7 linked regions of the Homo sapiens genome follow. Changing the gene in region 5 together with the main gene of any one other region gives a genetic interaction. Each region holds a gene or a part of one and is shown on either strand. Other genes may lie near its edges. The genes, in order: LEO1, NUDC, SNRPD3, CTNNBL1, CKAP5, PELO and METAP2.

What was found.
Region 1: changes in CKAP5 (region 5) and LEO1 together harm fitness more than expected from each alone (negative genetic interaction), as found in Homo sapiens cells (one large-scale study listed by BioGRID).
Region 2: changes in CKAP5 (region 5) and NUDC together harm fitness more than expected from each alone (negative genetic interaction), as found in Homo sapiens cells (one large-scale study listed by BioGRID).
Region 3: changes in CKAP5 (region 5) and SNRPD3 together harm fitness more than expected from each alone (negative genetic interaction), as found in Homo sapiens cells (one large-scale study listed by BioGRID).
Region 4: changes in CKAP5 (region 5) and CTNNBL1 together harm fitness less than expected from each alone (positive genetic interaction), as found in Homo sapiens cells (one large-scale study listed by BioGRID).
Region 6: changes in CKAP5 (region 5) and PELO together harm fitness more than expected from each alone (negative genetic interaction), as found in Homo sapiens cells (one large-scale study listed by BioGRID).
Region 7: changes in CKAP5 (region 5) and METAP2 together harm fitness more than expected from each alone (negative genetic interaction), as found in Homo sapiens cells (one large-scale study listed by BioGRID).

The regions. Positions count from the first base shown.
Region 1 is NC_000015.10:51,958,069-51,962,438, forward strand, and holds part of LEO1 (RNA polymerase-associated protein LEO1), read right to left. Parts: coding exon 4,321-4,370; intron 2,666-4,320; coding exon 2,571-2,665; intron 1,977-2,570; coding exon 1,831-1,976; intron 759-1,830; coding exon 674-758; intron 1-673. UniProt on the Homo sapiens protein: Component of the PAF1 complex (PAF1C) which has multiple functions during transcription by RNA polymerase II and is implicated in regulation of development and maintenance of embryonic stem cell pluripotency.
Region 2 is NC_000001.11:26,941,654-26,946,023, reverse strand, and holds part of NUDC (nuclear migration protein nudC), read right to left. Parts: coding exon 4,364-4,370; intron 4,272-4,363; coding exon 4,206-4,271; intron 3,365-4,205; coding exon 3,248-3,364; intron 3,154-3,247; coding exon 2,959-3,153; intron 635-2,958; coding exon 551-634; intron 457-550; coding exon 338-456; intron 1-337. UniProt on the Homo sapiens protein: Plays a role in neurogenesis and neuronal migration. Necessary for correct formation of mitotic spindles and chromosome separation during mitosis. Necessary for cytokinesis and cell proliferation.
Region 3 is NC_000022.11:24,561,981-24,566,350, reverse strand, and holds part of SNRPD3 (small nuclear ribonucleoprotein Sm D3), read right to left. Parts: intron 1-4,370. UniProt on the Homo sapiens protein: Plays a role in pre-mRNA splicing as a core component of the spliceosomal U1, U2, U4 and U5 small nuclear ribonucleoproteins (snRNPs), the building blocks of the spliceosome.
Region 4 is NC_000020.11:37,696,697-37,701,066, reverse strand, and holds part of CTNNBL1 (beta-catenin-like protein 1), read right to left. Parts: intron 1-4,370. UniProt on the Homo sapiens protein: Component of the PRP19-CDC5L complex that forms an integral part of the spliceosome and is required for activating pre-mRNA splicing.
Region 5 is NC_000011.10:46,797,257-46,801,626, forward strand, and holds part of CKAP5 (cytoskeleton-associated protein 5), read right to left. Parts: intron 4,049-4,370; coding exon 3,944-4,048; intron 917-3,943; coding exon 827-916; intron 714-826; coding exon 549-713; intron 1-548. UniProt on the Homo sapiens protein: Binds to the plus end of microtubules and regulates microtubule dynamics and microtubule organization. Acts as a processive microtubule polymerase. Promotes cytoplasmic microtubule nucleation and elongation. Plays a major role in organizing spindle poles.
Region 6 is NC_000005.10:52,793,735-52,798,104, reverse strand, and holds part of PELO (protein pelota homolog), read right to left. Parts: intron 1-4,370. UniProt on the Homo sapiens protein: Component of the Pelota-HBS1L complex, a complex that recognizes stalled ribosomes and triggers the No-Go Decay (NGD) pathway.
Region 7 is NC_000012.12:95,490,937-95,495,306, reverse strand, and holds part of METAP2 (methionine aminopeptidase 2), read right to left. Parts: intron 1,252-4,370; coding exon 1,090-1,251; intron 351-1,089; coding exon 169-350; intron 1-168. UniProt on the Homo sapiens protein: Cotranslationally removes the N-terminal methionine from nascent proteins. The N-terminal methionine is often cleaved when the second residue in the primary sequence is small and uncharged (Met-Ala-, Cys, Gly, Pro, Ser, Thr, or Val).

The sequences.
Region 1 (4,370 bases), on a different chromosome or scaffold from region 5:
ATCCTTCGGATTTAAGAATTGAAAATGCATAATTCCAGTTTCAGTATCATGCATTCAACCACCTCTTGTTCCCTTGTGCAACTCAATTCTAAAATGTCTACTTGGCCAAGTGCAGTAGCAATCATGCCTGTAATCCCAGCAATTTGGGAGGTCAAGGCGGGAGGATCACTTGAGCTCAGAAGTTCAAGATCAACCTGGGCAACACAGCAAGACCTCATATCTACAGAAAAAAAAAAAAGGCTGGGCATGGTGGCATGTTTTCTGTAGTCCCAGCTACTCAGGAGGCTGAGATGGGAAGATCACTTGAACCCAGGAAATTGAGGCTGCCAAGAGCTGGGTTTGTGCCGCTGTACTCCATCCTGAACAACAGAGCAAGACCGTGTCTCAAAATAAAAAGATGAAACTTCTGCTGAACCTACATCCTCCTTACTTAAAAGATTAGAGGCCCTCCTTTGATAGCGTGACCAGATGGTATAAGGTATCAAAGAGAAGCATTAATGGGAATTTAGTACAATAAAATTCTTTCCTAATAGTCAACAAAAGCAATCAAAAGAACACAGCCATATAGTGAAGTGTTAGGTAAAAAAATCACTTTCAAAAGCTCAAGTTTCAAGTTAGTATCTCCAGGTTTTACTTTATAAAAGAAAAAAAAGGAAAAAGCATGAAATGGTACCTTTAATTTTAACCTGGTTCTACCTTCTTCATCCAGCATTTCTTCATCTTCAAATTCATCTTCATAATACTGAGGATCAAAAGGTCTACAAATTGTTTTCCAAATAAACTATTAATCATATTTTATAAAGAATATTACTGCTATGTAATAACATCTCTATTAATAAACACCATTATATCAAAAAATCATAATATAATTTTAAAAATCATAATGATCAATATCTTCATGCTTAACTTCAAGGAAGTAGTAATTGTACTTTTTTCTTTTTTTTTTTTTTTGAGACCGAGCTTTGCTCTTGTTGCCCAGGCTGGAGTGCAATGGCACGATCTCGGCTCACCACAACCTCCGCCTCCCAGGTTCAAGCGATTCTCCTGCCTCAGCCTCCCGAGTAGCTGGGATTACAGGAATGCGCCACCATGCCTGGCTAATTTTGTATTTTTAGTAGAGACAGGGTGTTTCTCCATGTTGGTCAGGCTGGTCTCAGACTCCTGACCTCAGGTGATCCGCCCTCCTCGGCCTCCCAAAGTGCTGGGATTATAGGTGTGAACCACCACACCCGGCCAGTAATTTTACTTCTTAAAATTTGTTGTTAATACATATTGCTTGAAATAAAGTACAAGCAAGGGTAAATATTCAAAATATCCTTTCTTCTTCTTATGTAACTCTGCCAAAGAATAGGCAACATATGCTCTAGCTTTCCACATCATTGTGCCTGTGGAAAAAAAATTTTAAAAGCACAAGAGCTCGAGTAAACTTAGTAAATAATACCCATCAAACACTGTCTAATTGTCCAAAACCATTACCTTTTCTAGACCAACAATAGCTGCTACAGTGGACACTGGCATTTCTCTAGCAAATTTCATCGCTTTCAATTTCAGCCTTTTCAGGGTTGTACTAATTAAAAAAATACCTTGAACACTTGTGGTGTCTGTTAATTCATAAGAAAGTATCAAACTGCTAAAAACAATCATAGCATTAAAAGCCTCCCTTACTAATACATATTTTTTCTATCTCAGGATGTGCTTGACTAATTTTTTCAGAGATACACGATCAATTTTCCGTTTTTGTGATTTGTCAACTCAATGCGAAATAAGAAAAATAAACATTCTATGTATTTCTACTCAACATCCTGAAAAAATTTTAATTGATTTCCTTACCTGGGCTCTACACTGAGAAAGTTGGGCAGTTTAACAAAATATAAGTCGTTTCCTAAATCAGTGTTTACTTTGGGTATTTCTACTTCTATTCTGGTCTCAGGAATTGGCTCCTCTTCCTGTTGATCCTGAGGCAATCCATTTTCATCCTAGTGAAAGAATCGGAAGTTTGGAGCTTGACAGGACCTTAGAAATGGCTTCCTTCAACCTCCACACTTTAATTACTCTGGGGTGCAAGAAACATAATTAGATATCACTTTAGGACTAAAGAAGTCCCCAGTCCCCATCCCAACCCACCTACACACAAAATGGGAAACGATCAATTTGGATACCTCAGTACAAAAAACTATCTCCTTTATGATAAATCTGTCTTCCAAATACTCAACAAAAGTGTGAAATTAACACTTCAATAGGAAGTCACTCTATCAATTAAAACCAGAGAAGATTATCAACATAGCAGACACTTCTTGGCATGAGCAAGAAAAACATTCAAGTCAATGGTTCTCAAATCACAAGTCCTCACAGTTCAGTCCCCTAAGGCATGACACCAACCTCATGTTTGGCAGTTATTTCCACTCCCCCTTATAACCAAGAGTTCCCTACATAATGAAGAAAGTCATCTGTTCATGGTATTTTCATACTAGAATTCAGTTATCAACTTCCTTTCCTGGAATAAGGGAGACTCTTCACCTTTGAAACTTTATGCCTGGCCTTGAATAAGTTCATGTTACTAACTGACTTACAACAGGCTGTCCTGGAGTAGGTGGTTTGTCTTCTCCATCACTCCCTGAAGAGATATCATCTGCACCTCCAAATAAATCCATGGTTCCACTATTATCTTCAATGCAGAAGGAAAAAGGCATTAGTGTTACTATCTGTAACTAAGGTTCTTCACAGCTGATCACTTCAACACATTCCCAAGGTTTCTGGACCAGCATCAGAAAACCACCAAAAACATAATGCTGAGCCTGGCTCTCAAAGACCCAACCAGAGAGTGTGGGGAGAGGGAAGGGGGCAAATCTAGTGAAAGGCAAGCTGCACAGGAGGCACTTATTTCTCCTTTCATTTTCACCATCCTTGTTCTCCCACTTTCCTTTATTCCCCAGGAGCCCAAATGTTTCCTACAGTCTAGATGCTCAAAGTTGGGGCTGAAGCACTCCACAGACACCCATTTTCCATAAGTCTATCCCAGATTCAAAATTACAGTCCAGGCATAGTGGTTCATGCCTGTAATCCCAGCACTTTGGGAGGCCAAGGCAGGTGGATCACTTAAGGTCAGGAGTTTGACACCAGCCTGACCAACATGGTGAAACCCCGTCTCTACTAAAAATACAAAAACTAGCTGGGCTTGGTGACAGGTGCCTGTAATCCCAGCTACTTGGGAGGCTGAGGCAGGAGAAAGGAAGCTGCCACACCTGGCGGTAGAACTCCTTTCATCCTTCCAACTTATAATACCAGGTGGTGGTGGTGGTGGTGGTGGTGGTGGTGGTGGTTGCGGTTGTTGTTGTTGTTTTGAGACAGAGTCTCACTGTTGTTGCTCAGGCTGGACTGCAGTGGTGCGACCTTGGCTTACTGCAACCTCTGCCTCCCGAGCACAAGCGATTCTCGTGCCTCAGCCTCCCAAGTAGCTGGGACTACAGATGCACACCACCTCGCCCCGCTAATGTTTTGTATTTTTAGTACAGACAGGGCTTCACCATGTTGGCCAAGCTGGTCTTGAACTCCTGGCCTCAAGTGATCCACCCACCTTGGCCTCCCAAAGTGCTGGGATTACAGGCGTGAGCCACTGCACCCAGCCAACACTGGGTTTTTATGAGCTCTTCATCTAACTCACAGCTCAAAGAATCAGTTTCTTCATCTAAGTCAAGAACTTAGGAACAAAACACCGAGACTGTCATTATTCAAAGTGAAGAATGGACATTGTAACCTCCATCCCAATAAGAAGGTCAGCCCCCTAATAATGAATTCACTCTAACTATAAACAGACTGGGCGCAGTGATTCACGCCTGTAATCCCAGCACTTCGGGAGGCTGAGGTGGGTGGAACACTTGAGATCAGGAGTTCGAGACCAACCTGGCCAACATAGTGAAACCCCACCTCTACTAAAAATACAAAAAATTTAGCCAGGCATGGTGGTACGTTCCTGTAATTCCAGCTACCAGGAGGCTGAGGGAGGAGAATTGCTTGAACCCAGGAGGCAGCAGTTGCAATAAGCTGAGCTTGCACCACTGCACTCCAGCGTGGGTGACAGAGCAAGACTCTGTCTCTTAAAAAAAAAAAAAAAAACTACAAAGAGGCAGGTTCTTCTTCAACTAATTAAGCATGAGCAGCTTCTCATAGCTATATAACTTCTCTGAGTACACTGAGCGTATCCACACTCTTATTCTGTGGGTCTGGCGATCTGGGGTAAACACACTCAGGGTTAGAAATGCACTACAGTTAAATACAGAAAGAGGTATGGAAATATACATATATATATAATAATAGGGATACCTTTTGGCACCTCAGTGTCACTATCCGCTTCTGAATCAGATGCAATCGCA
Region 2 (4,370 bases), on a different chromosome or scaffold from region 5:
CAAGCCAGGCTGGGCAGGAGCAGGGCCCAGGGTATCTGAGACGCATTTGAGTCCCGAGGCTGGAAGCTGAGGCACCAACACTGGCATTGTTTTCCTGTAGGTGGCAATGACCGCCTGTTACCCCTTCCCTCCTATCATGCACCATGAGCCGGCCTTGCCCTCAAGATGACCTCAGCAAATGACAAGAGTAGGCAAGCCAAAGCCATAAAGCCATAAACATGGCTGGAAAGGGGGCAGGGCAGCTCCTGAGGCAGCGCAGTGATCCACTCACTGCTGTCACCGAAGTCTAAGCCCCCAGGCACCCACGGTCCCCCAACCCCGTCTCTGAATTGCTCACTTCTTCAGAATCTCCTGTTTCTTCTGTTCGTCTGAAGTTGGCAGCCCCATGGACTTCTGTCGCTGGTCATACATCATCTTTTCCACCATGCTGCGAGTCTCACTGTCCAGGTCTGACAGCTGAGGGCAGGCAGTGACAGGAATCGGTGAAGCTCTGGAAACAACGAGGCCCCTCACCTTCCTGCTGAAGCTCCCCCAACCAGCCAGGGCTCACCTTGGAATTCTCAGGGTTAATCTTCTTGGTGTTGATCTCAGGGTCACTGGACACCAAGCGGCTCCACCACTCCATCTTATTGATCTGTGAAGAGAACAACCAGAGGGTGGGAGGTGGCCTGCTCTGTGCACCAGGAATCACCCCTTAACCCTTTCACAACCAAACTCTCTCCCATCCACATCCTGCACCTGAGACCCTTGCAGGCCTACACTGGATCCAGAGGTACAAGACTGTGCCCTTCCTGCAGCTAGGGGAGACACAGAGGCAAAGAGTTACAAATCAGTGTGATAAGGGAAAGAAGAAAGCAGAAAGGGAGATATTCATCCAGGGTGGAGGGAGAAAAGTTTGAAAGTGACACTCGGGCTGAGTCTTAAGACACAAAGCAGTATTCCAGATTTAAAATGGGAAGAAAATAAATATATATATTTTTTGAGATGGAGTCTTGTTCTTCTTGTCCAGGCTGGAGTGCTGTGGCACCATCTCGGCTCACTGCAACCTCTGCCTCCCGGGTTCAAGCAATTCTCCGGCCTCAGCCTCCCGAGTAACTGGGATTATAGGCATGCACCACCACACCTGGCTAATTTTTGTATTTTTAGTAGAGACGGGGCTTCACCATATTGGGCCAGGCTGGTCTCAAACTCCTGACCTCAGATGATCTGCCTGCCTCAGTCTCCCAAAGTGTTGGGATTACAGGTGTGAGCCACCATGTGCAGTGGTGCAGTCAGCTCACTGCAACCTCCACCTCCTGGGTTCAAGCGATTCTCCTGCCTCAGACTCCCAAGTAGCTGGGATTACAGGCGCCCACCACCATGCCCAGCTAATTTTTTGTATTTTTATTAGAGATGGGGTTTGCCATCTTGGCCAGGCTGGTCTCAAACTCCTGACCTCGTGATCTGCCCACCTCAGCCTCCCAAAGCGCTAGGATTACAGGCATGAGCTACCACGCCCAGCCAGAAAAAGTTTTTAAGCAGGGAAGTGCCAGGTGCAGTGGCTCCTACCTGTAATCCCAACACTTTGGGAAGCCAAGGCAGGAAGATCCCTTGAGCCCAGGAGTTTCAGACCAGCCTGGGCAACATGAGACCCTGTCTTTACAAAAAACATTTAAAAATTAGCCAGGTAGGGTGGCGCTCGCAGTTACTCAGGAAGCTGAGGTGGGAGGGTCGTTTGAGCCCGGGAGGTCAAGGCTGCAGTAAGCCGTGATTGCGCCACTGCATTCCAGCCTGGGTGAGAACAAGACCCTGTCTCAAAAAATAAAAAATAAATTTAAAAGGCAGGGAAAGGGCTGGGCATGGTGGCTCACACCTGTAATCCCAGCACTTTGGGAGGCCGAGGTGGGCGGATCACAAGGTCAGGAGATCGAGACCATCCTGGCTAACACGGTGAAACCCTGTCTCTACTAAAAAATAGAAAACAAAACAGACAAAAAAAAAAATACAGGCATGGTGGCGGGCGCCTGTAGTCCCAGCTACACTGGAGGCTGAAGCAGGAGAATGGCATGAACCCAGGAGGCGGAGCTCGCAGTGAGCCGAGATCGCGCCACTGCACTCCAGCCTGGGCGACAAAGCAAGTGCAGAGGCATGGAGGGGTGAGTGAGTGAAGGCAGCCAGTGCCAGTCGGACAGGCTGTTACAGGGTCTTATGTGCCCTGGGAAGTTCTCCTCAGACCCTTGGCCCTTTTCAGACCACCTTTATTTACTGATCTCTGTGTCCTACCTCTCTGTAAAGGCAGTGAGGTTGAGAATGAAGGCTTCCTGAGGGCACATATTTTCCTATGTTTTGTTCACTGTTCTCTTTCCAGCACTTAGAACAAGAACAGTACCAGGCACAGAGCAGGTGTTCAAGTATTTGATGAATTGAATGCATGTACAAACCTAGTGAAAAAGAAGTGGCTTTAGAAACTAAGACTTTCAATTCTGACTCCACCCCTTCCCAGAGGTAGGAGCTTGGGTAAATCAACGAGCTCTTTTCCTGACTCAAGCCTGTAATCTCAGCACTTTGGGAGGCCAAGGTGTGAAGATCACTTGAGGCCAGGAGTTCAAGACCAGCCTGGGAAATATAGTGAGACCCCCCGGTCTCTACAAAAAAATTTAATAACAAAAATTAGCCGAGCGTGGTGGTGTACACCTGTAGTCTTAGCTACTCAGGAGGACGAGGCGAGAGAATTGCTTGGGCCCAAGGGTTCAAGGCTGCAGTGAGCTAAGAAGGTGTTACTGCACTTCAGCCTGGGCAACAGAGTGAGACCTTGTCTTTAAGAAAATAAAATAGAGACAGATCTACTTTAAAGAGTGTTGTCATGGGGATTAAGATAATCCCACAATGCCCCCAGCATGGCTCCTGAGTAAACTAAGCACACATCCTCCCTTCTACTTCCATCAACACCCCAGGCTAGAAGGGCTGGGCCTCACATACCTTCTCCAGATGCACAGTCACCACCTTGCCGTCCTCAATGAGCCACGAGCTCTCCTCCACCTTCACTTCATTGTAGAGCTCCCCATCAATGATCGCTGGCTGCCCCTTGAGCCCCACCCGGAGGTGCCGCCGCTGGATGTCCACCACCATGTCCTTCCCTTTCAGCCGGAAGTTCACACAGAAAGGGACCGCCAGCTGCATAGGGCAGAGGCAGTCAGAAGAGGCCACTAAGTGCTGCTGGTACCCCAGGCTGGCCCCCTAAGCTTTACCTCTGGTCCCTGACACTCACGTCCAGCTCCGACAGGGTCTGGGTCCAGCGGTAATTGGGCAGGTCTGCCCCGTTGCCTAGGTTGGGCTTCAGTTTTCCTTTGTCCTTCTCATCTTCCTCCTCATCTTCCTCAGTATCCTGCTTACAATCAGGGACACTCAGCTACTTACTTGACAGACAAGACACAGATTGAACCCTCACTGGGCCAAGCCCAGGGCTAGCACTGGGCATACAGCCACAAAAGAAAACAGACCTGGTCCCTGCCCACTCCACAGAGGGGCAGACCCCCAAGCCTTGGTCCACTGGGAACCAGGTAAAACTTGGTTCTGATCTCAGTCTGAGAGGAGCTCAGACTATTAATATTATACCATGTGACAAAGGATATGGCTGGGCCCACAGAACCCAGCCAACCTCAGATGGGACCTGTAATAGGCACTGCCCTCTCTGGCTATTGGGTTTTCTTGCCATAAACAGGTTAAGGTCAGTCGGTTTTTATTTTATTTTTTTGGGACGGAGTCTTGCTCTGTCGCCCAGGCTGGAGTGCAGTGGCGTGATCTCGGCTCATGGCAACCTCCGCCTCCCGGGTTCAAGCAATTCTCTGCCTCAGCCTCCCGAGTAGCTGGGATTACGGGCGCCCACCACCATGCCTGGCTAATTTTTGTATTTTTAGTAGAGATGGGGTTTCACCATCTTGGCCAAGTTGGTCTTGAACTCCAGACCTCGTGATTTACCCACCTCGGCCTCCCAAAGTGCTGGGATTACAGGTGTGAGCCACTGCGCCTGGCAGGTTTTTATTTTTTTAACCTGGATCCTTTGGTTCAATGTCTCTGAGTGTGATCTTAAAGTATGGGGAAGATTCCCAAAGCCAGGAGGGGAGGGGATAGGATAAGGAAGGGTATTCCAGAGAAAGCAGTAGGCAGGAGATTTCCTGTAAGTTCCAAGCTCCTGGCTCATCCCAAGTCCCTGCAGTCCATCTCACCTGCTTCCCTGGGGAGTCAAGGCTGCCGTTCTTGAGCTGGGCCTCATGATTCTCTGCATCCTTTTTCTGGGGCAAAGAGCACAGCAGTTGGCAACAGGACCCCACTGCTCAGTGCCAGGGGGGATCTGAGGGGTGGAGAAGGGAAGCCCACCCTTCACCTGGTCA
Region 3 (4,370 bases), on a different chromosome or scaffold from region 5:
GCAGGGAGCTGTGATGGAGCCACTGCACCCTAGCCTGGGCCACAGAGCAAGATCCTCTCAAAAATAAAACAAACAAAACTATGCTCTGGGGCCGCCCCTGTTGTATATGAGCAGTTTCTAGAGGAATGGTTTCTAGAGCTTCTACCCACTATCCCTGTTCTACCTTCAGGGGCAACAGGGCTCCAGTTTCTCATAAACCTTCTGCTCCAGGCTCCTCACTCCCAGCCTGTTATTAAATTTTCATCCAGTTCCCAAGTCCTTACCAATCCTTTTCTTCCCCTGAAGAATACCATAACCTCTAGTGCCACAAATGAACGCCAGGTTTATGGTCAGACTACCCAAGACAGAAACTGGATACAACTCAGGCTCACCTGAATCTGACTGACAATTAAAATGTGTTTTGGGGCTGGGCGCGGTGGCTCATGCCTGTAATCCCAGCACTTTGGGAGGCCGAGGTGGGTGGATCACCTGAGACCAGTCTGGCAAACACGGTGAAACCCTGGCTCTACTAAAAATACAAAAATTAGCCGGGTGTGGTGGCAGGTGCCTGTAGTCCCACCTACTCGGGAGGCTGAGGCAGGAGAATCACTTGAACCCGGGAGGTAGAGGTTGCAGTGAGCCAAAATCACGCCACTGTATTCCAGCCTGGGCAACAGAGCAAGACGCCGTCTCAAAAAACAAAAAACAAACCAAACAAACAAAAAACGTGTTTTGGGGACTGTGCCACACTCATGACTCTGTAGAAGACACAAAATAGGCCTAAAGACCTATAGGTGAGATCCAGCTCTGCCATTTGTCAGAAGTGTAACCCTAGGTATATCTCCAGGCTTCCCTGAGCCTCCGTTCCCTCAACTACAAAGCTGAGTTTTGAAAATACAAGACAACAAAGCCAACAGTTACTGAGCACTTATTAGACATCAAGTGCTGGCCCAGGTGATTTCCCCACGGCAGCTCATGTTACCCCACAAAATCCTACAAGGTAAAGAGATGAAGTGACATAGCCATTCAGAGGCAGATCTGTCCCCAGAAACCCATGCCCTTTCCCTCTATTCTCCTGCTTGAGGTCACACCACGCTTACATGGCCTGGCTGGAGTTTGAACCCAGTTCTTTCTAACTCACACTCTTAACCACTGCACATTTCCTGAAATTGTTAAAAAGCAAATCAGGCCAGGTACAGTGGTTCATGTCTGTAATCCCAGCACTTTGGGAGGCCAAGGTGGGAGGACTGCTTGAGGTCAGGAGTTTGAGACCAGCCTGGGAAATGTAACAAGATCCTATCTCTACAAAAATTTTTAACAATTAGCCAGGTGTGGTGGTGCATGCCTGTGGTCCCAGCTACTTGGGAGGCTGAGGTGGGAGGATGGCTGGAGCCCAGGAGTTCAAGGCTGCAGTGAGCTATGATTATGACACTGCATTCCAGCCTGGGCAACAGAGTAAGACCCTGTCAAAAAAAAAAAAAAAAAAATGAACAAGGCAAAGTATGTCTAAATGCTGTCTCTATTGCCTAATACATAATAGAGACTCAGTACATGCTAAATCTGATTGACAGCTAAAATGTGTTTTGGGAGCTGTGCCACTGCTAAGCCACACTCCCTCCAGCACAGGGGCACATCTCACTCCTTTCCTGACAGAAGCTGTTGCATAAGTCCGACAAGACTTAATCTAGGCATTTCCATAAATGAACTATGTCCTGGCTGAAGCAGGAGAGTCCAGTGTCCTCTGACTCCTATTTTAACCCTAACAACCAGGCTCACTACTGCTCTCGCTTTCCCTGTAGCACTGGCTAAGAACAGCTTGCTGTGGACAAAACCCCACAGTCTCACTGCACACATGCCTGCTAGAGCTTGCTAATAAGCCTGACCTGTGTTTGTATCACAAGCCCAAGGCAGCAACTTTTGAGTGAACCAGATCCTAATCAACTCCAGGCAGGAACACCCAGTTTAATCAACTTTCCTCAACAGCCACAATGAAACACATATGGTATAAGCCAGGTACCCAACTGAAATGACATCCTGAGGGGGAGAGAGAGAATCTTTGTAGCACAAAGTGGTGGGACTTTCTTAGATACCTGGGGCCAAGATGGAGAAAGCTAGCTCCAGGACTGTGAAGGTGTGTTGGGGTGTCTCAGGCCTGTCAATACACCAGAAATGCATTCTTTAGGACAATTTCACACATACACAAAGGCAGAGGTGCTTGGATGCCACTGCTATAATACGAATACCAACTAAGGCCATCTACCTATCTTTGTTCTTAGGAAATACAAAAGTATTATGGGGTAGAGGAGCATGATGAATGCAATCCACACACAAACAGTACAGGAAAAAAAAAGTATACGATAAGTTTAAAAAACTGGTTTTCCTTCAACCTAGAGGGCTAGGTGTCTAAAGAAATTCAATTACATTGAATTCAGAGATTTCAAAAACTTTCCTAGCAATAGTTATGGGCAATTTTCTGACCCAATCATGTGAGAGCTTCTTTTGGGTTCTCATTTTTATACAGTGACACAAGACCATATTCCATACAGAGACCAGTTTTCCAAAGATGGCTATTATATGCCAAAGCCAACAAAACAGATTTCAAACAGTCCCATCAGTGATTGGGTGGTCATGTTGAAGCCCCAAAAGCACAATGTCTGCTTGTGCAGAGCTCTACACCACATTCTCCCACCAAAACTTCTAAGAATTAAGTCATTTTGAATGTAGTGAAATGGGTTTGACCATTACTCTCTGTATTTGCTTGTATCATTTATAATTTGGGTCCATTTTTATAAAACTGGGGACATATTTTGGAGTATTGTTATTTTTCTCACTTATGCCAACAGCATTTTGACCAACATGCCATATCCTGCAGCTGATGCCCTATCCTGCAGCACTGGCCACCAGTGCTTGGCTTGCAGCTGTCGGAATGAGAAGGAGAACAAAAGCTCCCTGCCTTCCCAGCTTAACCTCAGATGCACACCCTCTGACCCGATAAGCACCATTTCAGGGACCTCATCCTGAGTTTCACATACACATATTTCCTCTTCTTCCTTTAAAAAAAAAAATATATATATATATACACACACACACACATATATATACATACATATATACATACATACACACATACACACACACACACACACACACACACACACACACACATATATGAGACAGGGTCTCACTGTGTTGCCCAGGGTGGTCCCAAACTCTTGGGATCAAGTGATCCCCCTGGCCCAGCCTCCCAAAGTGCTGGGATTACAGGCATGAGCCAATGTGCCTGGCCATATTTTGCATTTTCAAATGTCAAAAACAGTGCTAAGATAACAGGATACTTTAAAACTACTTGAGGGACCATAAAAGGGTATTTTGTATGGGGATGTTGTCGAGGATATCATCTAATAGTGTCTCCTGTATCTGAGTGCCAGGGAAATCCACACAATTGCTATTTTAACTTAAGAACACTATGCATTTTGGAACTGATGATCTTCCCTGCTTAATCTTACACTGGAATATACCTTTATTCAATGTACAGAGAGATTCAGGTTTACATTTCTGGATACTGACTGCTTGGCTTCATTTTACATTCTACCCCAGCTTACCTGCACCATGATCTATGCATCTACTTTTATCCTGCCATAGAATTTTTTTAATTTTAGAGATAGGGTCTTGCTCTGTCACCCAGGCTGGAGTGCAGTGGTGCGACCAGAGCTTAATGCAGCCTGAACTGCTGGGTGGGCTCAAGTGATCCTTTTTGCCTCAGCCTATGGAGTAGCTGGGACTACAGGCATAAGCCATCACATCCAGATAATATATTTTTTATTTTTGGAGATGGAGTCTTGCTCTGTCGCCCAGGCTGGAGTGCAGTGGCGCGATCTTGGCTCATTGCAAGCTCTGCCTCCTGGGTTCACGCCATTCTCCTGCCTCAGCCTCCCGAGTAGCTGGGACTACAGGCGCCCGCCACCACACCTGGCTAATTTTTTGTATTTTTTTTAGTAGAGACAGGGTTTCACCGTGTTAGCCAGGCTGGTCTCAATCTCCTGACCTCGTGATCTGCCCGCCTCAGCCTCCCAAAGTGCTGGGATTACAGGCGTGAGCCACAGTGCCCAGCCCCACATCCAGATAATTTTTAAACTTTTTTGCTTTTCAGAAGAGACAGGGTCTAACTATTTCTGAAAGAGGATAGAATAAAAAGTAAATACTAAAACCCCAAAACAGGGCAGGTGTGGCTTAGGCCTGTAATTCCAATACTTTGGGAGGCCAAGGTGGGAGGATCGCTTAAGTCCAGGAGTGCAAGACTAGCCTGGGCAACAGAGTGAGATCCTCTATTTATCTTTTCCGAATCGTTGTGGTGTGCTTTTGTGTGTGTGTGAGACTAGGTCTCACTCCGT
Region 4 (4,370 bases), on a different chromosome or scaffold from region 5:
GATTGAATTAGGATAATAGTTTTCCTCTTCTCAAGCATTTTCTTTAATACTATTTCTATCACTTTATTATCATTTAAAATTTTATTTCAAAAGAAAAAACTAGGAGGGGGAAAGGAGCAAGTTTAGATATTTCTGTAAGCTCCTGCAATCCAAGAGATATGCTAAGATATTACTGATAGAGGACAAGAGGAGTGGGTGTCTGCAATATCACCAAAACCAAGGGTCCCTTAGCCTCAAATTTGCCTCAAAAAGAATACATCTCATGTCACAAGCCATACTAAATGTGAATTCTTTATTGGAAAACTTCAGAGGTAAGAACTTTTTCCAGACATCTGTGGAATCAGATTTAATGAGAGTGCCCTGGAGTTCATATATGCGCCTATGCCAGCAGAAACTTCTCAGCCAAGGCACTGCTGGGCACACTTCTTGATGAGATGTCTAAGCCTGAAGGCATCAAAAAAGTACATTTCCATATTGGGAACATAACTGGTTCCCTCTTGAAGACTTTTTCCACCACCTCCTGCCCATATTGTAATTCTCCTGTCTTCTCAAATGAATAGTTAACATATGTCAAGGATATACGGCATATACTGAGGCGCTTAGTGCCTATCTCTATTACTTGTAGAAGAACCAATCTCAGCAGAAAATTGGAATCTTCCCACCAAGTCGCCCCAAAAATGAAATGTAGTAAGCACCCAAAAAATGTTAAATACTTTTAATAAACATTTCTTGACACTGCATGATATTTTTCCTGGCTTAGTCTCTGAATTTTAGAAACGGCATCCATCTTAGTCTCTGAATTTTGGAAATGAAAAGAACCAGAAGTCATATCGCTCAGTCTCCTCATTTTACAAGCGATTGAAAAAAAATGATGTATAGAAAGGGAAAGTGACTTGTCCTGAGTCACCCAGATAAGTAATGATAAAAGTGGGATTAAAACCCAAATCTCCCAGATTCTCAGCCCCACTCAGTCTACCACATGAAGCGTTTTTATCCCTTGAAATCTCTGGAGCCCCGGTCTAAATAATTAGTACCACAGAATTTTAAAGCTAGAAGGGGCCTCAGAGAGAGTCGCGTACTTAATCCCCTCATTAGGCATATGAGGAAACTGAGGCCCAGGAAGATTAAGTGATTTGCTCTCAATATCTTGAATGGCAGGGAAAAAGTACAACTTAAGCTCAAAAATCTGCAAACCAATGCCCACAAGAGAGGAAGAGAATGTCTCAGCTGGGGAAAATTTTTCAAGGAAGGGAGATCATTTTAGACCAGGGGATCACAAAGTACAGCATCAGCATCACCTGGGATCTGGTTAGAAATGCAGAATCTAAAGTCCCACAGGAGACTGAATCAAACTCTAGGGATGGGGATGTTCAAATCAGACAATTTTGTTCCCTTATGTCCCTGAGAAGCAAACTTCAGTGGTCGTACTGAGTCTACTTTGTAAATGATAACTATAACCAAAGGCTCATAAGATGTATGTATTATTCAACATGTGGACTATACTTCAACTTTAAAAAGTTTTCAAATCTGAAAACAAAATGGAAAACTACCTCTGAGTGTTCAGCTGGTTTCAGTTCTGGCCCTGCTCCTTACTGGTTGTCTGGCTTTCGGCAGGCAGCTTGACCTCCCTAGGTTGAGTTTCCTTTCCTATAATACAGGCATGCTGCCAACCTCAGAAGGCATGTTGAGAATTAAATGTGATAACTTGTCTGAAAACACTTTGGTTCTGCATCTGGCATATAGCAGGCAGGCAGTATGGCACAGTGGTTAGGAGCTCCAACTATGAAGTAAGACTACCCGGGTACCCTGGACTTGCCTCTACCTAGCTAGATGCCTTAAGGTAGGTGCTCTTTTCTGTACCTCAGTTTCCTTATCTGTACAACAGGGATTAACAACAGTACCTTCCTCATAGGGTTGTTATGAGGATTTAGATAGATCATGCTGGTTAGTAAAGCATCTTTCATGTCTATAAAATGTTACTGTTTTCAAGGAGTTTTTTTGTTTGTTTGTTTTTTGTTTTTGAGACAGGGTCTTGCTCTGTCACCCAGGCTAGAGCACAGTGGCATGATCTTGGCTCAGTGTAACTTCTGCTTCCCAGGCTCAAGTAATCCTCCCTCCTCAGCCTCCTAAGTAGCTGGGACCACAGACACACACCACCATGCCCAGCTGATTTTTAAACTTTTTGTAGAGACAGGTTTTCACCATGTTGCCCAGGCTGGTCTGGAACTCCTGGACTCAAGAGATCCGCCTGCCTTGGCCTCCCAAAGTGCTGGGATTACAGGGGTGAACAACCACGCTTGGCCTCAAAGAACTTTTGCATCCATAAACTCATGACTTTCTGCAAGAGGATGGGTGCAACTGATTATGAACTACATTCCAGCCTTTACCATCTTTTAGGAACAGGAAGAGTGGACATGGATCTTACAAAAAGAAAACTGAATGAACAGAACACATGGGGAATGTACAGAGTTGGAAATAAGGAGACCAGGATTCTGAGATAAGGGCCAGGTGGTGTAAGGAAGCCAGGGCCTGAATAAGGTCCTGAGGTGGATTTTGGGACTGGTGCTGCTTTCCAAGCCTTAGACCATGATTCTGAATTTGGGTTCTGAAACTTAGCCTTGAATTGAGGATATTTCGCTGAGCAAAGGCCTAGAGCTGGTTTTTGGTGCCTAACGGGTGGGCCTCTCACCTCTCGAATGGTTCTAGCCGGCCAATTAACCAAAGTGGGGAACCTGCGATGGGGAAGGAGATGCTCCTGGCTGGCCAGCTGGACATGAGCATGCCCGCCCTAGGCTGGCGAGATCAAAGTGCTCTCCAGTAGCAGACTTAGGAGGTTTCAGCCCTGTTACTGGTTCAGTTCAGTGTTGTCAACCTGAATTAAATGAGTTCTAGTATTGTAGTTCCTTATTGTGCAACCAACATATTTGCATTTTAAAACTCTTAGATTGAACCCTCAGATACAATAGAAAATGTAAAGGCCAAGATCCAGGATAAGGAAGGCAAGTAATATTTTGCAGTTCAGGAAAATTAGCCTGTGGCAACCCCAATCTACCTGTAGGCGCTAGGCATATTTGCTCTTGGTGAGGGGGAAAGGGGTCAGATTGACAAAATGAAATACTTTTGGAATAACACAATAAACAAATGTTTATGATCACGAAGCAAAGCTACCTAGATTGGAATCCTTGAGGTACATTTCACTTGTGTGAATCTGGACACGTTTTTTATTCTCTATACCTATTCCCTCATCTTTAAAATGAAGGTTCCTATATTAACATATTAAGTACTGCCATTAAGATTAAATGTGGTAAGATGTGTAAACATTAAAAAATAATAATAAGGAGACCAGGATTCTAGTTTCAACTCTGGCCACCATCTTGGCCCACAACCTCAGGTGAGTCCCTTTATCAGACTAAGGTTCACTTTCATCCATGAACAAGTGGGTTGAATGAAGGTATCTACCGTATCTCTCAAAGTCAAGGTCTTTATCGTGGCCCACAAGGAAGGCCTACATAGTCTTGTCACATGCCTACATCTTCAGCTTTGTCACTTACCATTCCCCTGCTCACTTCCCGTTTCAGCTACATAGATCCTCTTTCTGGTCCCCTATGAGGCTGCACCAGCTTCTACCAATAGCCTATGTCCATACTTGCTGTTCTTGCTGCCTCCATCATTCTGCTCCCTTCACATGACTGGGTCCCTCTCAACCTTCAGTCCTTTAATGCCCATTCCTCTGTGTCCTTCCTCGACCACATTACATAAAGTAAAAGGTCCTGTCCCCAACTCCCAGGGGTTATTTTCGACAGGAGTGTTGTCCAATAAAAATACAACAAAAGCCACAAACAAAACACCTAACTTTACATTTTCTTTCTTTTTTTTTTTCTTTGAGAGAGAGTTTCGCTCTTGTTGCCCAGGCTGGAGTGCAATGGGATGATCTCAGCTCACTGCAACCTCTACCTCCCAGGTTCAAGCAATTCTCCTGCCTCAGCCTCCCAAGTAGCTGGGATTACAGGCATGCACCACCACGCCCGGCTAATTTTTTATATTTTTAGTAGAGACATGGTTTCTTCATGTTGGTCAGGCTGGTCTCAAACTCCCAACCTCAGGTGACCCACCCGCCTCAGCCTTCCAAAGTGCTGGGATTACAGGCATGAGCTACCACACCCGGCCCACTTTACATTTTCTAGTAGCCACATTTTAAAAGTTTTTTAAAAAGCAACATTAATTTTAATAATATATTTTCTTTAATCCAATATATCGTAAGTGTTATCATTTATTCAACATGTAATCAGCATAAAAGTTAAGGTACTGTACATTATTTTCACGTGGCCAGGGGCAGTGGCTCACGCCTGTAATCACAGCACTTTGGGAGG
Region 5 (4,370 bases):
CTCAGGAGGCTGAGGCAGGAGAATTGCTTGAGCCTAGGAGGCAGAGGCTGCAGTGAGCCAAGATTGTGTCACTGCACTCCAGCCTGGGCAACAGAGCTAAACTCCATCTCAAACAAAACAAAAACAACAACAACAAAAAAAAAAAAACAAAAATTTTTCGGGTTAAGGAAACCCTTGGTAATCCATTTAGCAAATAAGTATTTCCTTTTCCTCTTACCCTCTATCTAAAATAACTCACTCCCAAATGATCTTCAAATACTCCACATTTGATGCCTATGCTTGGCCAGATTCAGCTGAACACCAGTATATGGGACAAGTAAGAAACAACATGTTTAACAGTTAATGGAATCATAACACTAACTTGTGCTTTCTTTCAAGAAGAGGAACACAGGAGAATTTGGATTCAGTTTCCAAGCTGCAAAGGCTCTGCTCCTCAAAAGATCATAACCTCTATAGTCTGAAAGTCAAGTAGTCACTGTACATAATTTGCAGGAAAAGAATCTTGCCTAGGTATAAAATATTCCCCCAACTTCAAAGAGAGTCTGTACCTTAAGTAGTGCAGCACAAAAGGGCTTTAGCAAGCTCTTTGGCAGGGTAGAAGCAGTGCAGTGGCGGAAACTTCTTGCAATAAAAAGAGATGTCTGCTGCTTGATGGTTGGATTTTTATTATCCATTACTGCTAAAACATCCTCACTGATGTTCTGTAGTGTGGTCTTTAGAAAGAAAATGTGGTTAATGAGCTTTTTTCAATTGTAAAGAACAATCAAAATATTATATTTACAAACTTTACTTCAGATAAAACTACAAACTCATGCTGTCAACTTACAGTAAGGAAGATTGCATCAATTGCCTCCTGCAGGGCTTGTACCACTTGAGGTTTCTTCTCTTTGAATTTCTCCAAGATGGTTGGCACAACCTGTAAAAGTGAATGGCTAGCACATTATTCAGCAACAAAGAGGAATGATATATTGATATATCCTAGAACATGGCTGAACCTTAAAAATAGTATGCTAAGTTAAAAAAAAAGCCAGTCACAGGCTGGGCACAGTGACTCATGCCTGTAATCCCAGCACTTTGGGAGGCTGAGGCAGGTGGGTTGCTTGAGGCAAGGAGTTCAAGACCAGCCTGGGCAACAGAGTGAGATCTTGTCTCTACTAAAACAAACAAAAAAAAATTAGCCAGGTGTGGTGGTATGTGCCTATGATCCCAGCTACTTGGGAGGCTGAGGTGGGAGGATTACTTGAACCCAGGAGGTCAAAGCTGCAGTGAGCTACGACTGCATCACTGTATTGTAGCCTGGGCAACACAGCAAGACCCTGTCTTCCAAAAAAAAAAAAAAAGCAGTCACAAAGACCATGTATTGTATGACTCCATTTACATGAAATGTTAAATCCAGAGACAAAAAAGTAGATTAGTGGTTGCTAGAGTCAAGGGCAGGGAGCAGCATGGGGAGAGACTGTTAATGGGCAAGGGGTTTCTTTTTGGGGTGATGAAGATGTTCTGGAATTAGATAGTGCTGATGGTTATGTAACATTGTGAATATTCTAAAATCACTTTAAGAGGGTAAATTTTATAGTATGCAAGTTTTATCTCAATAAAACTTACTTTCTAAAAAACCACCTTGTCTCCACCAAAACAAACCAATAAAGCAAACATTTAAGTGGAATAAAAAGTCATTTCCTTTCATGAAGGACATCGTATCTTATGCCGGAACAATGAAGAATTCTCATTCTCTCCCACTATGGCAGTGCTTCTCAACCTATTTGCCGCCTCTGCTCTGTCACCCACGTGGGAGTGCAGTGGGATGAACATGGCTCACTGAAGCCTCGGCCTCCTGGGCTCAAGTAATCCTCTCATCTCAGCCTCCCGAGTAGGTAGGCCTCAGGTATATGTCACCACACCTGCTATTTTTTTTTTTAATTCTTAATTTCTTGACCATTTCCCTGTAAATATAATTTTTTATTTTATTTTTTGTCGAGACGGGGGTTTCTCCATGTTGCCCAGGCTGGGGAAGAAAATTTCTAAGGTCCAAAGGACACAGCAAAGCTCAATGGCATCCAAAAACAAGAAATAATTGTTTTCAAGATTTCACAGAAGTGGTTATAGACTACTTGGTATAGTTCAAGGACTATGGTTCCCATGGAAAAATACAAGACTTTTTAATACTAGTTATAAACTTGAAAATCAAGATATTTTAATGTCTATAAAGCTAACATTCACTTTTATAAATATTGCCAAAAAGTTTGTAAACATTTAAAGAAAATAAAGCCAAGTCAGTAACATGCTTGATACTAAACACCGCATATATTACAGTATTAAGGTGGGGGAGACCCCAAACTACAGAGCAATAGAGACATTCTTTAACCAGGACAACAAACTGAAACAAAGCCAGAATCAGAACTCAAACTGGAAAGCCAGTTAATTATCCAACCATAATTTGGTAAATTAAAATGAATTTTAGGCCGGGTGTGGTGGCTCAAGCCTGTAATCCCAGCACTTTGGGAGGCTGAGGCAGGCAGATAGCTTGAGCTCAGGATTTCGAGACCAGCCTGGGCAAGGTGGCAAAACCCCATCTCTACCAAAAATACAAAAAGTACTCAAGCATGGTGTGGGGTGTGCCTGAAGTCCCAGCTACTCAGGAGACTGAGGTGGGAGGATCACCTGCGCCTAGGAGGTTAAGGCTGCAGTGAACTGAGATGGTGCCACTGCACTCCAGCCTGGGTGACAAAGTGAGACCCTGTCTCAAAAAAAAAAAACTAAAATTATTCTCTGAACTGATATTTAAGTGGTGTAGGAAAAAATTGTTTTTTATCTTGAAAAATTATTCCCAATATAAAAGTGTAAAATATCCTAAGTAATATAAAATTGATCAAAATGGCATATACACATCGATATTATATAATATTGATTGCTATAAAAATAGATTTTAATTTTATTTCAATTTATGATGTATATGTCTAAGGGTTTTACAGACCCTTATTTTTATTTCCCTAGTAATAAGCCAGTCATGATTTATTTTTATTTGGTAGTGTCTTCTTTTTCTTCAGTTAAGTTCTCTGAGATTATTTTTAATGCTATGAGTAAGCAAGCTCCAAATACCATAGCTCATGTGAGGCTAGGTATTAGCTTCACAATATAAAATGGACACATGACTAGGGACTATTAGGAAACTCCTAAGTCAGTCTAGGGAATCAAATGATGAAGGGGCTAGCAAGCTAAACTCTAAAGATCAATAAGGTCAATTTTTAGGATGCTGAGCCATTCTTAGTAATGCAGACCGGATTTAGAGGCCAAAGGACAGATGCCACAGTTAAAGAAAACATCTTAATTAAAATTATTACCAAATTTGATTGGAAACAAACTTATACAAATAGTAAGTCAACAAATGTCTCCAGTCAGATTTTCTTTGAATAAGTAAAACGGAGATAACCTATATAAAATATATAACATTGTAACCTATATAAAATGTCTCAAATATGTAAGTAAATTATATATTAAAATAGGAAAACAATGTAAAACACATTTTATATATTAACCTCACAGTTTTACATTTATAGTTTTACATTGCCTTTCCGACTCTCATTTTCATTCTGGTCCTGGTCGTTACAAGTTTTGTTTCATCTTGTTATGATGTGTATAATGTTGTAAGAACAAAGCAAGATACTAGTAAGTAAATAAGTAATAAGCAAATAAATAAACTCAACTAAGTACTTTAGGCCTAGTGCCTGACTTTCTACATAAGGCCTATAAATTTTGTTACAACTGACATCTACTGAAATTTCTAAGATATATCTATGCTGAATATTAACAAAACAGAGAGAAATTTACTTTGTACAGTATATACACATCTATGCCAAGGAGTTGTTTTAAAGCAAACAGCAAACTAGGCCTACCATTTTTGATAAATTTTGTTGATCTGTATCTAAAAAGGAGTGTTACTTACATGTCCTGCATATTGTCCAAATTTCTTCCTTAGCCCAACAGCCAGGCCAGTAAGACATTTTGCTGCCAAAGCCACCAACATGACATTGGTGTCCTTTCCAACAACCTACAAAGGGGGGTAAAAAGGAAAACAAAATAGTCACAGCCATGTAGAAGGGTATTGAAATTTTATTCTCAAAAGAACTCTGAGGCCGGGTGCAGCGGCTCACACCTGTAATCCCAGCACTTTGGGAGGCCAAGGTGGGTGGACCACCTGAGGTCAGGAGTTTGAGATCAGCCTGACCAACATGGTGAGACCCTGTCTCTACTAAAAATACAAAAATTAAGCAGGCATGGTGGCAGGCACCTGTAATCCCAGCTATTTGGAAGGCTGAGGCAGGAGAATCACTTGAACCTGGGAGGCGGAGGCTGCAGTGAGCCGAGATTGC
Region 6 (4,370 bases), on a different chromosome or scaffold from region 5:
TCTTGTTAACTTAAAATTCCTAATTGGTAGGGTGAAAGTGTGCTTGTGTGTGTATTTGTGAGAGAGAAAGAGAGAGAGAATGAGGAGATAATTTTGAACTGGGGCTTTGAAGTGCTCCTTGATCATCTTTCTAAGTACAATTTATCTTTCCCATAGTCTGCCAAAGATTAAAAGCCACAGAATCACAGTGGTAAGCACACAGTGGGATCTTAACAAAAGGTTTTTATTGAAGAGCTATCACGTATTGAATGTTTATCAAGTTCTTTCCTATGCTCTAATTCTCCCCTGTAAGGTAAATATTTGTTATCCTAATTTTATAGAAGAAAATCAACTATGGGGAAGTTAAGAAATGTTTTCAAGATCACATGACTAGCATTGAAATTCAGGCCTGCATAACTCCATACCCTCTCTTTCTACTACCACCATCCTATATTATGAATGTTTGTAATCATCTCCTTCACTGCAAATTATGTGCTATTATCCACTGTCACTTCCCCTCAACTGTCACCTTTACCAGCTAAACAAAAACTCACAGCTTGGGAACCAACCTAGAGGATTTGAAAGGCACTAGTCCCTTTCCTGCTCTTTTATCACCTCTTAAAATTATTATACTTTTCTCTTCTACATAGTTTTTTTTTTTCCTTCTGTCCAGCCTAGGTCATCATCATACTCTTAGAGAAAGATCTAATGTTCTACTTTAGAAAAATATACATATATTTATCTGTACATTAGAAACCTGTGAAAAACCCTTATTGACTCTTAAATCCATGGTTAAAAAAATTTTTTTTTAAGTTATGAGGCAAACCACTTTGGGCCATTTTAAAAAATATCAGTGTGCCTCCATAATTCAGTATACTATAAAATCTTTCATAGAATTACTGTTGTATGTGAAACAACTGCAATAGTTGGGAACTTTTTTTTTTCCTTAGTAATTTAAGCCTGTAGTTGACTATTAGATGTTTTCACCCAGATTTTGTTTATGGCTTAGTATTTCTAGACCAATCATTATATTTTTATTTTGATTCATTTTGGATTCCCATTCCCTATGAATTAACGTCTACAATCCCAATTTGCACTGGCCTTACAAATTTACTTCCCACTTTTCCCCTCAGGGCACCCTATATTCCACCTTGAAAGTAACCTTTGTTCCCTACATATGCTAGGAACTTTCTCGTTTGCTACCTTAACTCATACTAACTTCTCTGTTTAAAATGTCACTTCCTTTCATCCCTGCTTCCTTTAGTGCTGCCTATCTTTAAAGTCCAGCTTAAATGTTATCTCAAACTTGAAACCATGTAAACTTGAATCCATGTTAATTTAAACATGTATCTTTTTTGTTGAACTCTGGAAGGATTTATCTTTATACTCCTTTGTCCTTTTAAAGGTCCTTTGCACATAGTAGGCACTCATATATTAATGATAAGCTAGGTGAGTCAAATGTAAAGTATGGCAGCTATTTTAACATTATTACAGACATTTCAAGACATTTCTTAAGGCACTTACTTATATTGTTATTGACTGTATTTCACTTAATAATGGTAGTTCAGAAACTGCTGTAGTTATATATTTATTTTCATTTTTTTCCAAATGAGCAAAGTATTGAGAAAAATACCAGGGCTTTTAGCTCTTTTGCTTTAAATACTAATTTTATACTTATGTATTGGCTGTTTAAAATAGAAAACTTTATATCAGTAACTTTATATCAGTATAAATCTTTATATCAGTAACTTTAATTATATCTATTTTCCCTACAATGTCTTATTTATATTAATCTCTCCAGAAGGGGAAAAAAGTATTGTTACCTCCAAAAGTTTTTAATTTGTTGCTCTTGAGACACTTCCAGTGTCTCAAGAAGAGAACTGGGCTAGAAGTCAAGCATCCTGGATTGTAGCTCTTACTCTTCAATTGTTTTTACTGTAACTTTTGGCAGTACTCAGTCTCTCTGGAACCCAATTTATTTCACTGAAGAATTGAGGGAATTGAATTCAATAATTAAATTTCTAACTAAAAATTATGCTGCAGTAATATTTTTTAAGTGTTTAAACAACACCTATAATCTCATCCTAACATATTTGTTTTCAATTTTGCGTGCTATCTTTCAAATCTGATTTTTCTAAGACCCATTTCAGAGGTGAAAGACTGATTCAAAGTTTCTTGTTTGTGGACCAAGAATTGGCAGACCTCAAATATGGTCTTTCCTGGATGGATTCTACCAACTTGAAATAAGTCCCAGACCGCAATAAAGCTAATTATTTTTCATTCTAAATGATAAATAAGATTATTTGTCCTGCTCTCTCATTTGACCATCCTTATGAGGTCCTAGTGATATTATGATACTTGATATTAATAAATTATAGAGCTCTAAAAATGCCTGGCTTGAAGCTAGAAAACTGGATCAGACAAAACAAGGGACAAGAGCTCATTTTAACATGATCATAATTATTCAGCCTTGGAAAAATAACTGGTTTGGTAGAGTTGACTGATGGATAATCTTTGGGGTACATTTATTTATGTTATTTATGTTATTCAGCTCTACTGAATAAAATGGTTCATGGACCTCATTGGTGAGTTGAATTACTATCTTTCCTATTATAATAATATAAAAGAAATGGTTTGTATGACATGAAATGGAATTATGGGCTCCTGAAAGATGGAAATCTTGTTTTAATACCCTCTGCTTAGCTTGTGACCCTTAAACAGTCGGGGCTGTATAAATTTTCTTGTTTTCATCTTGTATTTTATTTTGGAAGGCTTACTTTCCTGCAACACAAACCTAATCTTTTTGTTATTCCTTATAAAGCACCTTGGGAGCCTCTCCCACCATTGTGTCTTTCCATGTCTACTACCTCTTCCACCAGTAAAGGCAGAGACTTACTACCTTTTATTTGTCTTTGTTCTCCTGGAACACAGCATAACAAGTGGCACATACTCATATTTTTAGTATGCAAAAATTAATGGTTATTAATTTTTCTTTAATTCAGAGTTTTTAACTTGTCTGTAACTGACATTCTAAAATTAGGAAATCACATTCTGTTTTATAATGTTACTAAAAACTTAAAAAGAAGGTTACTCTTAAGGTAAGTTTGTATAAGCCTATTTCAATATTTGAGATAGCCGTGCTTAGGTAAGAAAATGGTAATTTAAAATACATCTTCCCCAGGAAAAGTTCTTAAAATATTTTAGAATAACACATAATGGCAATTAGTTTTATTATACATGGTTTGGAAAGTGAACTTTACAAAATAAGAAGCCAGAGCTCCAATTATGAATATCTAGTGATAAACGCAATTGTTTATTTAGAGAGAATGTGCAAACCTCAGATTGTGCAAAGGTTCCCATGTGACCTCCACCAGCAAAGCTAAGTGGATGACTGGGAGGATTAGTTAGCTAATATAGACAAAAGGGTAAAAGGGAAAGTGGTTTTTTTTGTTTGTTTTATTTGTTTTTTTTTTTAAGGAACTTGTACTCACTCACTATCTAAATTTCTCATGATGGAAAGTGCTTACTTGCAGTTGTCACAAAATAATACAAAACCTCCTACCAAATAAACAAAATCCTATGAACAGAAGTGTGTGTGTGTGTGTGTGTGTGTGTGTGTGTGTGTATTTCTATTTGCATGTATTCTTATACGGCATAAGATCATTTCACCAAAAATATTATAAGTAAAATGTGTTACACAGATATTTTTAAGGATTGGCCAGTACCCATGTATTTCTAGACTTTAGTATTTGGTAAAATAAAAGTCTAATTAATAAAATAATTTTGAAAGTACATTTAATTTGTAGTAAGGATATATGATTTGTAACAAAATATATAAACCATCTTAACTATTGATGTTTTAAAGTGACTTAGGTGCTATATTTAAATTTAAGAATTTGCATTTATTTTAGGAGATCTCATATAATTCATACAAAAAGAGTATGTGTATCCACTCCTTTGCATATTTGAATTACAATGATTTCTCATTTCAGATCTCTTACTTATCTTGTTAATAGGGATCTCCTGTTTGGATAAAATTGATTTTTTTTAACACATAAAGTGAATTCCTAACACCAACCAGCATATGCATTTTAATTTCCTTTTAAAACTTAGTTGACTTTTTTATCTTCCTTTTAAATCATAGGAAAGTTTTGATTAAAATTAGTCTTCTTCCTATATACACAACCCTGGAGCTTACCACCAACATGACAAAAAGTTAAGAGTTTGCCAAAGCTAGAGTCATTAATCCTGTGCAACTGGAACATTATATGATTACTTTATTGTCACCTTTCTCCTGAAGCTCTCTTCTAAAGATAGAGCATTTGGAGGGAGCTCTGTTTTTGGGATCTGGTGAGGCTGTTGGTGCCAGAGGAGCAATTATCCCCTAAATC
Region 7 (4,370 bases), on a different chromosome or scaffold from region 5:
ATAAGTGCACTAAAATTTTTTTAAAAATCTGCCTCAACACACCTTTCCTAATGAAATGAGGAAGCAAGAACAAAATTTGGGAGTTCAGTATTTATCACTCCATTTAACAGAGACAAAAACTAGTTTTTCAGGAGGAGGCTGGGGTAGGAATTTTCTGCAAGAATTTACCACTTATATGTGTTCCAAAGTCTATTTTACAGATGTCATCATACTGTAATACTGTTGTGTCACCGGCATTGGGAGTATAATGGGCAGCACAATTATTGAGAGAACATCCAGTAGGAAATGCCAGGCCTGCATTTAATCCATTCTCTTTTATTAACTTGCGTGAACAGTCTTCCAACTTTTCACTAAAACAAAAAAGCAAAGGGAACTTGTTTACTTTTACATTCTTACTTTTATATATTAATACCATATAGTTCATCAAGTCCAGAAAGTTTACTAAAAACCTTAAATACCTTCTGGGAATGATCTGAGCACTTTCTGAATATAAATAAATAACAGTTCTCTGATGCTATGAAAATAGCATATCTTTAGAAGACAAGGAATTTGATTCTGCTAGAAAGTCAGAGAAACACAATCCACTTTTAACTAAATTTACTAGAAAATAAGAGTCTAACTTAGACCAATTTAAATGCTGATCTTATTTGTTCATGTTGTATATTTTTTAAATTGTAGGAATCAGAGAATTACATGTTATACTAACCATTTATCAAAAGGAAAAACTAGAGAATAATTACTTGAATTGGTTTTGTTACTGTATTATCATCATGTTCTGTATTTGGGCAATTGCTCCAATACTTTCTTATTTCTTAGTATGACTTGTTAGATAGCAAAATAACAGATTTCCAGATAGAAAATAACAATCAGTAATGACTACATGTGCACACAAAAGGGTGGCTGAGGTGCCAATGTGTACTCCTCTTCATGGTTTTCTCATAGTGACACTAAAATAATCTAGAAGGCATTTCTACAACCTTTACTTAAAGATTTAGCAAAGTGGTAATGAAAGCCAAACATTATAATTGGAGAGTTAGTACTTAATAAAACATTTTTTATCATGTTCTTACGAAGAAGTATTCCTTTTACCAGATTTCTATCATTGTCATCCCAGGCTTGATCCAGCTCATTACGTATTTTCTAACTTGTCGATGTGCTTCTGCAGCTTCTCGAAAATCATTCCAAATCTCTTCACTTGCCTGATCTAATGCTTTCTTTTCTTCACTTGTAGTTCTCCAAGCAGCTGTTCGCCTTTAGAGTGGGCATAGAATACTATTAGTGATAAAACAGCAGAACAAGCATAAAAGCTGACAACTATACTAAGTAACAAGACAGTTCAAATAAAAATACAGTACATATTCAGTTTATGTCAATAAAGTTTCTGAAATACAAAAAGCCAAACACTTGCAACCAACTCAAATGAAATTAAAAACTTTTTAAGACTCTAAGGGAGGGAAAAAAACCCTCATGTGAGATTTCATTCATAGTCAGAGGAACTAATACCCTGACAACACAAAAAGATAATAAAACAATCAGAAAAGTCTGAAGAGTCCTAGAATCAGAGTAAGTAGGAAAAAGTCATCCTTCCACTTGAGGTCATATATACTTTAGACACTTCAAAGGAGCACAACAACAATTTGCATTTAATTTTGCCAACAGAGTAACTACTAACCCAAGAAACTGACTTGGAAATCTGCATATACTTCCTCAAAACACATATTACATGCGTGTGCTGGGTTTTCCTAATTGTATACATAAATATAAGAGGTATTCTTCCTTGAAAGACATGGCTCACATTTTAAAACTGCCAGTGCTAACGAATTTCTTTTTTAAGAGACAGGGTCTTACTCTGTTACCCAGGCAGATGCAGTGATGTGATCATAGCTCACTACATCCTCAAACTCCTAGGTTCTTCCTGCCTCAGCTTCCCAAGCAGCTGGGAGTATACAGGTGCATACCAGCACACCCAGCTAATTTTTAAAAACTTTTTCTTTAAAGAAATGGGGTCTTGCTATGTTGTCCAGGCTGATCTTGAACTCCTGCCCCGAAGTGATCCCCCTGTCTCAGCCTCCTGAGTGGCTGGGATTACAGGCGTGAGCCACCCCAACTGACAGAATTTTTTATTCAGTATCTGGGAATAAGATCCATGACTCCTGTAGTAGGAAAAACATTAACTGCCTTAAAATGATATTTAAAAAAAAAAATCTAAACAATTTTCACACATTCTTAAATACTGAATATACAGTTTGCAACTTAGTGACCACTGAGTATAAATTACACAAGTGTAAAAGTGATACCTTCAAGGAATTGCTATTTGCCTCCCCTGTTTTATAAATAAAATTTTATTGCAACATGTGCCCACTCATTTATGTACTGTCTATAGCTATTTTCATGCTACAATGGCAAAGCTAAGTAACACTCAAGGCCTAAAATATTCACTATATGCCCTTTGAAGAAAAAGTTCACTCAACTCTGCCCTAAACTACAGACCCTGGCCAAGGTGGGAGGATCACTTGAGGCTAGTAGTTCAAGACCAACCTGACTCTGTCTCTGACTCTGTCTCTACCAAAAAAAATTAGCTGGGCGTTGGGCTTATCCCTGTAATCCCAGCTACTCAGGAGTCTGAGGCAAGAGGATCACTTGAGCCCAGAAGTTCAAGGACACAGTGAGCTATGATTGCACCACTATACCCCAGCCTGGGCAACAGACCAAGACCCTGTCTCTAAAAACATAAAATAAAAAATAAAAAATAAAAATAAATAATAAAGAAAAAAGAAACAGAATTAAAGAAATTCTTTTGCTCAAAGTCTCGAGTTCAGATAGAAAGTTATTAACAATAAGAAAAACCCAGCGTCAGGGTCTATAATTCCAGACTCCCCCAAAACTCCTTATAAGTGGACTAAAAATTTTTTTAAAATCTGCCTCAACACACCTTTACTAAGAGTATTATTTTCCTATATTTTATCTTATTTAGTTCAGTCAATTAAACAAAAGTATAGCAATTAAAGCCAGGTACAGTGGCTTACTCCTATAATCCCAACAGTTTGGGAGGCCAAAGTGGGAGGACTGCTTGAGGACAACAGTTCAAGACAATCCAGGGTGACACAGTGGGACCCTGTCTCCACCAAAATATATACACACACATATACATACACACACACACACACACACACAAACACACATATACATACACACGATAGGCCAGGTGCAGTGGCTCATGCCTATAATCCCAGCCATTTGGTAGGCTGAGGCAGGAGGACTGTTTGAGCCCAGAAGTTCAAGGTCAGCCTGGGCAACATAACAAGACTCCATCTCTACAAAAAGAAAAAACAACTTTAGCCAGGCAAGGTGGTACATGCCTGTAGTCCCAGCTACTTGGGAGAAGGGGTAGGAGGATCACTTGAGCCCCAGAGGTCAAGGCTGAACTTAGCTAGATCTCACCACTGCACTCCAGCCTGGGTGACAGAATGAGACCCTATCTCAAAAAATAGTAATGACCAGGCATGGTCGCTCACACCTGTAATCCTAGCACTTTGGGAGGGCAAGGGGGACAGACTGCATGAGTTCAGGAGTTCGAGACCAGCCTGGGCAACATAGAAAGACCCTGTTTCTACTAAAAATACAAAAAGTTACCCAGGCAAGACAGTGCACACCTGTAGTCCCAGCTACTCGGGAGGCTCAGGCACGAGAACTGCTTGAGCCTGGGAGGCAGAGGTTGCAGTGAGCCAAGACTGCACCACTGCACTCCAGCCTGGGCGACAGAATGAGGCCCTGTCTCAAAAACATAATAATAACAATTAAAATGTATGCATGTATCACATAAAATCCTTCCTCTAAAAACTGGTACTTAAAGGGTAAGAAATAAAGCATATTTTAACTCTGCCTATAAGAAGGAACTATAGTTGATTCCCAGTTGACAGAGAAAATTCTTCTTACAGAATAGTATCACCTAATAAATGTAGAAGGAATGAAAGAATCAAAAATCCACCATTTTGCAGTTCCCAATGAAATAACCCATAAAAGCAAGGATCATCAATGGATATTAAAAGAATTAAGTGAAAAGTTGTTAAGAAAAGGATATTCCTTTCTTCTCAAGTTTGTATAAACTAAATAGGAAGAAAAGGAAGGAAGATAGATATTCCAAATGATACCAAAGTAGCCCCACAGATTACTTGGAAACTGCAAAAAGCAAAAAGTACCTTTAAAAGAAAAAAAAAAAAAAAAGAGTTGGCTGTCACATTAATCAAGAGGTCAAACACAATAAAACTAACAGTAGGATAGCCTGAGATTACATCTAATGTAGCAGAATATGGTACAATGTGAAGGTCATAATCACTTATTTTATACCTCTGTCAAAAATGTTTAACCTA